Linked DNA regions of Homo sapiens. The protein of the gene in region 2 purifies or fractionates together with the protein of the main gene of each other region. This does not show direct contact. Each region holds a gene or a part of one and is shown on either strand. Other genes may lie near its edges.

Region 1 (3,603 bases), on a different chromosome or scaffold from region 2:
TTGGCCTTGGTGGTGGCTTTGGGCGCCTTGGTGTCTGGTTTGGGGCTGCTGGCTCATTTCCCTCTGGACTCCATGGTGGGCGGGGTGTATGGGACAGGCAGGTGGCTGCACCAGAGGGGCTCAGGAAAGCTCGACGCGGAAAGTGTTAAGACTTTTGGAAATGTTGAGATGGGGCGAAAATGTATTTTGCACAGGTGAAGGAAATCAACTTTGGGAATCAGAGGGCAGATTGTTTTGTGTTGAACTGTGTCTCCCAAAAGAGATGCTGAAGTCCTAACCTGTACATGTGACCTTATTTGAAAATAAGGAGCTGCAGATATGATTAAGATGGGTCATAGTAGATTAGGGAAGCTGTCCTTGTAAGAAGAGGAAAATTTGGCTGATACAGAAGGAGGACAGCCACCTGAAGATGGAGGCGGGGACTGGAGTGATGCTGCCACCAGCTGCCAGAAGCTGGAAGCAGCAAGGCTGCATCCTCCTGTATCCCCTTTGGAGGGAGAATGGCCCTGCTGCTACGGTGATCTCAAACTTCCAGCCTACAGAACTGTGAGAAAGTCCATTTCTGTTGTTTAAAGACTCCCAGTTTGTGTACTTTATTAGAGCAGTCCTAGAAAACACATAGAGATTCAAGTCTGGCAAATAATGATCGAACAATGATTTGTTGGGTAAAATGGTGATTAAAACCTAGGTTAGAAAATGAGCAAAGTGGGAGGGAGAGCACCAGGACAAATAGCTAATGCATGCAGGGCTTAATACCTAGGTGATGGGTTGATAGATACAGCAAACCACCACAGCACATGTTTACCTATGTAACAAACATGCATGTTTTGCATATGTATCCCAGAACTTAAAATAAAATAAAATTTTTTTAAAAGACAAAATGAGCAGTGTCTACAGCTTTCTGGAGTATGACAGCATCACCAGCTTAAAGCTGTTGCTAGTACTAAATTGAATAAACATTTCCCTCTAATTTCCCCTTAATGTCCTCAGAAACACAGATGAGGGATACATCTTCATATGACTCCTCAGAGCACTAAAATGATATTAAAACACTCTTCCCACAAGAAACGCACAGACGAGGGATTCTTCAGATAATAGGAATAAGAAATGTGAAATAAATTAGAATAAACCATGCAGCTATTTTAAATATTTACTCCTGGAAAAATAGTAAGTTACACAGAATCAGTTTTGGGAATAACTTTTCCATTTTCACCTTTTTATGATTATTGTAATAATTGGAGGAATTAATAAAGTAAAACCATCTGAATAAGTTCATCCCAAGCTGATTCTGATGGATGGTGTGGCGGATTTTTAAACTCTCCTCTGTCACGGGCTGCTGAACAGAAGGAACCCTGTGAAAGTTGTGTCATCGTCCTCATCAGCAAACAAGCCATTGAACCTCTCTCCTCCTGTCACCTGCAGCCACACCTCATCCCCGAGCTTCAGCTGCAGGACAATGCCGCCAGAGGCCTGGTCCTCAGAGCTCATGTAAGCATCTTTGGTGTGCAGTATTTTTACTCCATTTTTGACCAAAGACACCTGAACATTTCTGGAGAAAACAGTGATGTGGTAGGTGAAGTAATAGACCCCAGCAATGTGGCACGTGAATTTCCCCGCTGCTGTATCATAATGGTTGAATTCGTTATACAGGATCTTATCAAATTTAATGGGCATATCTGAAGAAGGAAACTTGCTCAGCACCGTGAGCCCCACAGTGAAAGCACTTTTTGGCAAGACTAGAGTCTCACCGATTTTCCCTTTCTCTCCTCGATCTCCTTTCCAGCCTCTTATTCCCCGGACTCCTGGCTCACCCTGGGGCCCCGTGGGTCCAGCTTCTCCTTTGGGACCAGGCTTTCCAATAGGGCCCATGGGGCCCGGTAAACCAGTTGGGCCCAAAGGCCCAATGTTGCCCCTTGGCCCCTCAGGACCAGTGGGACCCACGTCACCCTTATTCCCCTTCTGCCCCTGAGGCCCAGTCTCTCCTCGGAGGCCCTTCTCTCCCATGGGCCCTGCAAGCCCCTTGGGGCCATGTTTTCCTGGGGATCCTCTTGAGCCTTGATCACCTTTGATGCCTTTTGCTTCAACTTTTCCATCTGCTCCTAAATAGAGAAAGAGCAAATAAAGAGATAGCTTGTGAAAGATTCCCTTGTGAACAACTTTGGTTTTTCTATAATTGAGCTCACAAATGAAACAAAGTAGTGCACAGGTTCAGTATATGCCCAGAGTTTAAAATTCAATTACTCCATCTGGGTGCAGTGGCTCACACCTGTAATCCTAGCACCTTGGGAGACCGCGGCAGGAGGACTGCCTGAGGCCAAGAGTTCAAGACCAACCTGGCCAACATAGCAATACCCTGACTCTAAAAAAAAAAAAGAAAAAGAAAAATAAGAAAATAAAATTCAATTACTCCAGCCCAGCTCAGTGGCTCATGCCTGTAATCCTAGCACTTTGGGAGGCCAAGGTGGGCAGACTACTTGAGTCCAGGAATTCAAGATCAGCCTAGGCAACATGGCCAAACCTTATCTCTGCAAAAAATACAAAAATTAGCCAGGCGCGGTGGTGCACAACTGTAGTTCCAGATACTCAGGAGGCTGAGGTGGGAGGATGGCTTGAGCCCAGGAGGCTGAGGCTGCAGTGATCCGTGATCAAACCACTGCACTGCAGCCTGGGCAACAGAGTGAGATTCTGTCTCAAAAAAAATAAAAATAAATGAAAATCAATTACTCCAATTACACACGTGTGTGCACATGGACACACACACATCCCAACACACCTTTTGACTACCGTCTACTAAATTAGTGTCAGGGCTCACGTTAGAAATTACAACCCTACCATCTAAGTCTACCATGCTGGCCATTAAATAATGTCAATCCATGACAGAAAGCACTCTTCAGAGCAGAGACAGGTAGATTAACTGACACTCAACCCTAGTCGTGACATCCTCTAAAAACCTCCTCCCTGGAGTGAACATAAAATAAAGCCTGCATCGAGGCATTGCCCTCTCCTGCCCAACCCCAGCCCCAACCCACCTATCCCACCGGCAATTCATCATCTACAGAAACCTTGCTGCTTCCTTGCACCCCCACCCATACCAAAGAGCCGTGGTTGCAAGTGTGGACTCTGAGGTTAAATGCCAGGTTTCCATTCTGTCCCCATATGCACACAGGACGTCAGATGAGCTAGTGAGCCTCGTGCCTCTGTTCCCTCACATATGGAACTAGGGTAATAAAACTACCTAGCGTCTGGGGATATTGCATTCAGTGAGTCAGTACATGAAAAGCACAAAGTGAAGATTACACAAGTTTGCCACTACGACTACATCCCGACCCATCAGGGACCAGTTCTAGTTCCACCTCCTCCATGCAGTGCTGCCAGATGCACCAAGTCAAAAACTCAGTCTCACTCCTCAGTGCTCATCCACTGCAAGGTTCAAGGTTCAACAAACTACAGCCACAGGCCAAATTCAGCCTCCCTCCCGCAAGCTAAACAAATATGGTTTACATGTTTTTTTGTTTTTCTGGGTTTTGTTTGTCTGCTTGTTTTTTTGTTGCTTTGAGACAGGGTCACCCACTCTGTTACCCAGGCTGGAGTGCAGTGACGAGA
Region 2 (3,651 bases):
ACAGTCCTCAGCCATATAAAAAGGAAGCACTGAGAGCCTCCAGCCTGGGGGACCTTGGGGACACTGTGCCAAGAGGAGTTGGTCAGACACAAAAGGTCGCACACAGTTATGAGTCACCTATGTGACGTCTATGAATAGCCAAGTTCAGAGACAGCAGAATGGTGGGTGCCGGGGCTGGGGGAGCGGGGCAGCTGGGAGTCAGGGTTTGAAGGGGACAGAGCAAGTTGTGGAGATGATGGTGCTGACGGTTGCAGGGCAGTGTCACCAGCGCCTGGGGGAAGAGGGAAGGCGTGCAGCGTCCCTACCCTCCAGCCAGGCCAGCCCCAGGCAGTGCTAGAGCAAGGGCGTGTACACATCAAGGCCAGTGGCAACTCGTGAGTCAAGCCACAGCAGCCACCCTGTTCTTTAAGCTGGGGAGTCGGGACCTGGCTGGGGACGCCACCTTAACACAGCGCCCACCGAGACTGTCAGCCACGGGCCATCCTCCAGGACTGTGGGGAAGGCTGGGGCTTGGGCCGTGGAGGCAGGGAGGGGACTGGCCCCCATCCCCGTCCCCTGAAGGGCCTGCGCTGCAGCAGCAAGTGCACTGGTTAGAGGAGGACGCCCCAGACTGATGTTTCAAACTCTCTGTAGTTTTACCGTATTAATAATAAAGTCGAGGCCAGGCGCGGTGGCTCATGACTGTCATCCCAGCACTGTGGGAGGCCGAGGCGGGCAGATCACGAGGTCAGGAGATCGAGACCGTCCTGGCTAACACGGTGAAACCCCGTCTCTGTTAAAAACACAAAAAATTAGCCGGGCATGGTGGCGGGCGCCTGTAGTCCCAGCTACTCAGGAGGCTGAGGCAGGAGAATGGCGTGAACCCGGGAGGCGGAGCTGGCACTGAGCCGAGATCGCGCCACTGCACTCCAGCCTGGGCGACACAGCACTCCAGCCTGGGCGACACAGCGACACTCGGCTCTAATAATAATAATAATAATAATAATAAAGTCGAAATACACACGAGGTGCTGGGTGACTGTTCCCTGGGAATCTGGCCAGCCCAGGAGCCAGATGCCACACTGGGGCCACCCTCAGCCTGGCCCCCGCCCCCGGAGGGCAGAGGCTAATGCCACTGAGACCTCTGGGGTGCTGGCCCGGCCTGGCCTTCTGTTCCCTGACATTCCACTCACCCCTGGGGCTGTCCCCTCCCAAGACAGATGGAGACCAAGATGGCCAGGCTGCCCTGCTCAGGGGACAGGGGCTGTGGATATAGAAAGGTCCTGGTCCTTCCTTGTCAAATACCATCTGGGTGGCCCCTACTCCCAGGCTCACCCACTGTCCTCCCAGCCTGACCGCTGGGGGCTCTACCTCAGCCCTGTCACACCTGCTGTCCCACAGCCTGGGGTGCTTGGGCTTGGTCCCTCCAGTCTGGCCCTAGGGCCCTGCCCAACAGGCACATAGGGAAGCCTTTGGAGCCATCCCAGAGACCCTGATGTGTCCCTCACCCATCTGCCACTCAGACTCCTGCCCGCAGACCGCCACCCGCACACTCCCGCCCGCAGACCCCCGCCCGCACACTCTCGCCCGCACACTCCCGCCCGCAGACCCCCGCCCGCAGATTCCCGCTCTCACACTCCCGCTGGGAGGGTGGCTGGTCAAGCTCCTGTGTCCTGGGAACTCACGTTCCCAGGCTTGCCCCAGGCAGACACTGCTTGGAGACACCCCAGGAGGGGCGTGGGCGCCGGGCTTAGCTCTGCACCTGCAGGGCCATCCGTCTAAACAGGACTGTGTGAGGGCAGCGGGGCCTGGCCTGGCTCCCCAGCTGGGAGGAGGCCTCTGCCTGGGTGCTGTCCACAGCTTCAGTGGACTCCTACTGGCTGAGGTGCAGCCTCCCGCAGGGGATGGTACCACAAGCCCCCAACTGGCAGTGCCCAGTACCCCAGGTCCTCTGCTGCTGGCCCACACCAGAACCCCGGCCACGGCCCCTCCCCTCCGCCTGGCCCTCAGGTTTCAGCAGCCTGTCCTCCTGAGACAGGTGGGGGCTGGCCCCTCCACGCCTCTTGGGCCAGACACAGCCATACCTGAGCGGGAGTCTCTACCCCCAAATACCACCACCCCCAAATGCCACCACCCCTGCCGGGAGGCTTCTCCTCTGCTCCTGCTTCACCCGCACGTCCCCTGCAGGCTCCGTGTTCACGGCCTGCATGGCCAGGACACTCGCCGGTGCCCTTGGCTCCCGCGGGCCCAGGTGGCCTTACTGCCAGCTGTCCCTGCACCCGAGGCCACAGCTCAAGGCCCATCAGCTTGGCTGAGCCTGGACTCCGTTTCCCCTCTGCCCCGGTCAGGCTTCGGTGGGCAGCACTCCCCCTAGGGCTGCGTCTCTTGGTGACAATCCCTTCTCAAGGGTGGTCCTCCCTCCCACGCTGCTCCCTGGCCCGGCCCCACACCTGGTCCCAGTACCCTCCCAACCTCCACAACCCCCACACGCCACCAAGAACTTCACCGGGGACCTCACCCTCACCCTCCGGCCTCACGCACCCCCTGGTGAGTCCTGTGCCCACCGTGACCCTCTCCAAGCACCAGGGACTGCCTGGCAGACCCAGCCCGGCCCCAGCCGAAAGCAAGCTCCCAGCCTGACCCCTGCAACTCACATGCTGGGAGCCGCACTTGCCATGGCTTCTCTAGCCAGGATCCCGGGGCCACTCTACTCCTCCCCCGCCCCCTCCCCAGATCCAGGACCCTGCCAAGGCCCCAGAGTCCTGCCCAGCTGGCCGCTCCCTCCCACCGCCACCGAGGCAGAGCTCCCTCCTGGACAGTGTGCTGGGCTATGCTGGACTCTGCTGGGCGCTGGCAGGACCACCACACTGACCGTGCCCCATTCCCTCTCCATGCCACAGCGGGACACTGTCTCCAAATCACAGACCTACCAACCTCTGCTCCTCCTGCTGTCAAGGGACGAGGCTCCCGACTCATCTGGTGGAGGCCATGGAGCTGCCCACTGCCCAGCCCAGCCCCACCAGCCTCGGCCCTGGCAAGCCCACCCCTTCCTTCTCCTTGGCAGACACTCTTCTGCGGGGACCTTCTGAGCCCTAGGCCACAATCACCACGCCCCTGAGTTTCTCAGCCTGATTATCTTTCTGCTCAGCTCATTCCACAGACCACACTCTCCTACCCACTGCACACAATCCGCCTCACACGTTGATGTTGAAGGAGCGCTACATCAAAGACAGAAAAAACAAGTAGAATATCCACACCCGACCCCACAGACGCAGGAGAGGATCCACACCCGACCCCACAGACGCGGGAGACGATCCACACCCGACCCCACAGACGCGGGAGACCATCCACACCCGACCCCGCAGAGGCGGGAGACCATCCACACCCGACCCCGCAGACGCGGGAGACCATCCACACCCGACCCCGCAGACGCGGCAGACCATCCACACCCGACCCCGCACATGCGGGAGACGATCCACGCCCCACCCCGCAGATGCGGGGGAGTATCCAGGCCCCACCCCACAGACGCGGGGGACTTTCCACGCCCGGCCCCACCCCACAGACGTGGGAGACAATCCACGCCCGGCCCTACAGACGCGGGGGAGTATCCACGCCCAGCCCTACAGACGCGGGGGACTATCCACGCCTGACCCCACAGGCGCAGGAAAAAATG
Region 3 (3,651 bases), on a different chromosome or scaffold from region 2:
TTAGAAGAATGGCTTTGGACAGAATAAACCCAAACTACAGATAATTTTGAAAGTAAAGTTGCCTTTAAAAATATAGTCTAATTAAAACCTTTGGATATTACATAAGAACATGTTACATCTTATTTTTCTGTATCCTAAAAATGAATTATTGAGGAGAAACAGTTTCACCATGTATAGTAAATACTCTGAATTATTCATGTTAATGAGAAAAATAGAGGCAAAGATAATGTAAAATCATGGTTATTTAAAAAGTCATTTGTGTTTGTCTTTGGAATGTATTGCATGTTTGGTTTAAAAAAGATTTTCATTGTTATTGTGGGCAAGTTGCCTTTCTAATTATTTTCTTGTGTTTAGGTTAATTTTTAAATGAGTTTTCATGCCTCAAACACGAAAACCCATTTGTGGGGAGGTGGGGAAGATGGGCAGACTGCCCAGAAATGAGCTGGGTGGCAGAAGTGAGCAAACCTGGTATGAAAACTTTGCAGGAAATCATATGTAATTCAAAGAAAGATAAGCAAGACTTGATTGTATGCCTGTTTAATGAATATGTGTTAAGGATTAGATATGTTCCCAGCAAAAATAAAAGTCTTATAGTCAAAGTTTGAGAAATTCAATCCCACTTTACATGTAACAGAGGTGGTTAATATATTTTAAGAAGTGATAATAGGTTGCTCCTGAAAATCAAATAAGAATGTGTTAATGTATGCATCTTACTATTAATACACTGCATTTTTAAGTGTTTTCCTAAAGCATATGTATGTCTTTGACGTTAAATGGCATTCCTAGGCCTTATATATTAATATGTCCTTTCCAAGAGAAGGAATAGCAAGAAGCCATCTAAATAAGGGGTTTGGTCCATTTCATCTCTGTACCTATGCTCCAAATCAAAAACACATTTCATCAAAGAGAACCTCTCAATTATTGTTACAGTGGACCAAGCTAGATAAAATAGTTGAAGTTCAGCAAGACTGCCAATTTAACAGATTTCTATTGTGTTTTTCAAAAGCTCTAGGGCAAAATGGGTTGTAGATGAGTTACTTCAGCAAGAAGCTGATTCATACCATAGCATGAAATATCTTGTTTATAGTCAGTTTTTAGTTGGACATAGATTTTGTTGAATTGTTAGTTCTGTGGACTGTTAGAATTTAGAAAACCTCTGTGTGGAAGGTTAGAACTGCCAAAAATATATGATGGGAAAAGCAGATAAGATCATTTTTATTTCAAATATTCACAGCCAAACTGTAACTTTTATGGAAGTAAGGAGAATGGTGATAGAAAAGTAGATGTACCCTTCAGAATAGAGACTATGTTCTCATCATAAATGTGCTCACTACATAAAGTGTAGGGATGCTTTTTTTTTAAGGAAACATTTTCATTTTTTGTAAGGCATGACATTTTTTAAAGACTTGACTAGACTGAATATTTTAAAAGAAATATTGTGGTTGGAAATATAATTGAGACCCACAGGATAAATTTTATATACACTTATTAAAGGAATCCGTTTCTTCTTATCAATGCCTAAGTCTTAGGATCAAGATTATGCATTTTTTAATAGAGCTGGAAAGAATCTTAAAAGTAATTTATTCCTGTGTCCTCATTTTACAGTTGCAGAAATAATGGGGACCTACAGTGATCATGATGAACTGCTAAAGGCCACACTGGTAGTGGCAGAGCAGAAACTAGAAACCTGGTCTCCTGACTCCTCATCCAGCTACCTCTTAGAAAGTTAGATTAGTTAGGTAGGGGAGTTAACTCTTTCTGGCCATCACGGTATCAACTAATATGTGATAGTCACAGAATGAAGCAGTACAGAGGTAAATGTAGAAGGCTTGTGATTTGCTGTCTTCTTTCATGCATTGAGTAGTCATCGTGGACCAGACTGTGATCCTTGACCCTCTCAGACTCTGTCCTCTTTTTTAAAAACAAATATTTTGTTACCCCCTTATTATCCTCAAAAGTCATTTATAAATAATTACAGAATATAGTTGTAATTTTTAAAAACTAATAAAATAAAAGTAATGTGTATTTCACTACTAACGCTCAGGGATAACTTCACTAGACACATAGTAAAGTCAGCGCTTGTATGAATATATGATGAATAAATTTGAATTTAAGACAAATAAAACATTAGAAGACATCCCGTGCAAGAAGTGCACGAAAGTGAAAGAATGAGGGTAGACTTAAACTAGTGTTGAGATACTAACAACCCAGACTTATTTGTAGATGAAAACCGGAAGAAGAAAGTTAATGGTATAGGGAAAATTTGCCAAGTCAAATGTAGACTCTTGGAGTGGAGAAAATTTTAAAGTATGATATTTTGCAAATGAGAGAGTAAATACCATTGATATACTTCCACTAAAATCCCAAAAGTACTTTCTGGAACATTTCCATGTTGTTAACTAATGTTAATTCTATTTCAAGAGATGAAGGTTACTCACCGTATTGTCAATAAGTAAAATACTTGAAAATAAAAATTACTGATTTGGTGCTGAGTTGGTCTTAAGTTTAATTTCTATCAACATTATAGTCTATCAGTTCTAGAGTTAGAAGATAGAGTACATGAAATAACTAAACTATTTTTGTAAATTGCTCGGCTTTTGGTGGGAATGTAAATAAAATTCTTAATTGTAATTATGTACCAGGTTATACAGTTTGATATGCATAACATTTAGCTAAATAGGACACATAAACTTTATATGGAATATTTTTAGAAAAACTCTTCATTAAATTGGGCTGCCTCCCCCATATACACTAAAAGCCAATAGCACACCACCACTACCACCACCAATAATTTGTGACAACCCTGAACATACCCAGTCCTACCTAAAATATTCTGTAGGTGTGTCACTTGCCATTATGAGAGCCATAGAGCTAGATAACCAAGATTTTTATGTAGGCGTGGATTATTTTTCATGCCCCTACCTATCTATCTTTACTTCTTTTAAGTAGGACCATCCCATTTGTTCACTGATACACTGGCTCTAATGGATCAGAACCACAGACTTCACTGCCCTCAAGCAGGTCATGTTCTAATCTTTTTCTGTCGCTGTCACCTTGGTAAAAATTCACTTCTTCTGGTCCTTATTTCTCTTAGGAATCTATCTTTTTTGGGTGACAATAAGTGGTGACAAACTGAAGTACATGCTGGGTAATATTTTAGTGGTCTTAGGCCTTAACTGCTTAAATGTATATCTCCATAAAGCACTGAAAGTTTTCATATATATATATATAGAGAGAGAGAGAGAGAGAGAGAGAGACATTATCACACACATGTATGCATGTACGTATATGTATATATGTGCATATTTATGAAAGCATATATGTATACACACATAATTTTAGGCTTTGAAAAAACAGGAAAGGAGGTATTATTAAGGCTTATATTTTTAATGCCCTTGAAACATGCTTATGCAAAAAAGAACTGCACTAGTCCAATACTGGAATTTATACCACAAAACTACGTGCTATGAAGTATGCTTATAGTAAAAGCCCAAAAGCTATTTCCAACCCAAATAAACTGCTGTATTAGAATTTTGTTATATTGCTTGTGGTAGATGAATCCTGTGCAGCATATTAGAAGTTGAGGGTAAGGGGTGTGGTCAGTTTTGTCTGTTTCAGAGGTATTTAACCTGTGCACTCTTGACATCCTAA

The links.
Region 1: the proteins of GNPTG (region 2) and C1QTNF9 purify together in Homo sapiens (co-immunoprecipitation; one large-scale study listed by IntAct). This does not show direct contact.
Region 3: the proteins of GNPTG (region 2) and CHST9 purify together in Homo sapiens (co-immunoprecipitation; one large-scale study listed by IntAct). This does not show direct contact.

What each region holds. Positions count from the first base shown.
Region 1 is NC_000013.11:24,319,492-24,323,094, reverse strand, and holds the end of C1QTNF9 (complement C1q and tumor necrosis factor-related protein 9A precursor), read right to left. Parts: intron 2,100-3,603; coding exon 1,327-2,099; 3' UTR 564-1,326; downstream 1-563. UniProt on the Homo sapiens protein: Probable adipokine. Activates AMPK, AKT, and p44/42 MAPK signaling pathways.
Region 2 is NC_000016.10:1,354,821-1,358,471, reverse strand, and holds part of GNPTG (N-acetylglucosamine-1-phosphotransferase subunit gamma precursor), read right to left. Parts: intron 1-3,651. UniProt on the Homo sapiens protein: Non-catalytic subunit of the N-acetylglucosamine-1-phosphotransferase complex, an enzyme that catalyzes the formation of mannose 6-phosphate (M6P) markers on high mannose type oligosaccharides in the Golgi apparatus.
Region 3 is NC_000018.10:27,178,685-27,182,335, reverse strand, and holds part of CHST9 (carbohydrate sulfotransferase 9), read left to right. Parts: intron 1-3,651. UniProt on the Homo sapiens protein: Catalyzes the transfer of sulfate to position 4 of non-reducing N-acetylgalactosamine (GalNAc) residues in both N-glycans and O-glycans.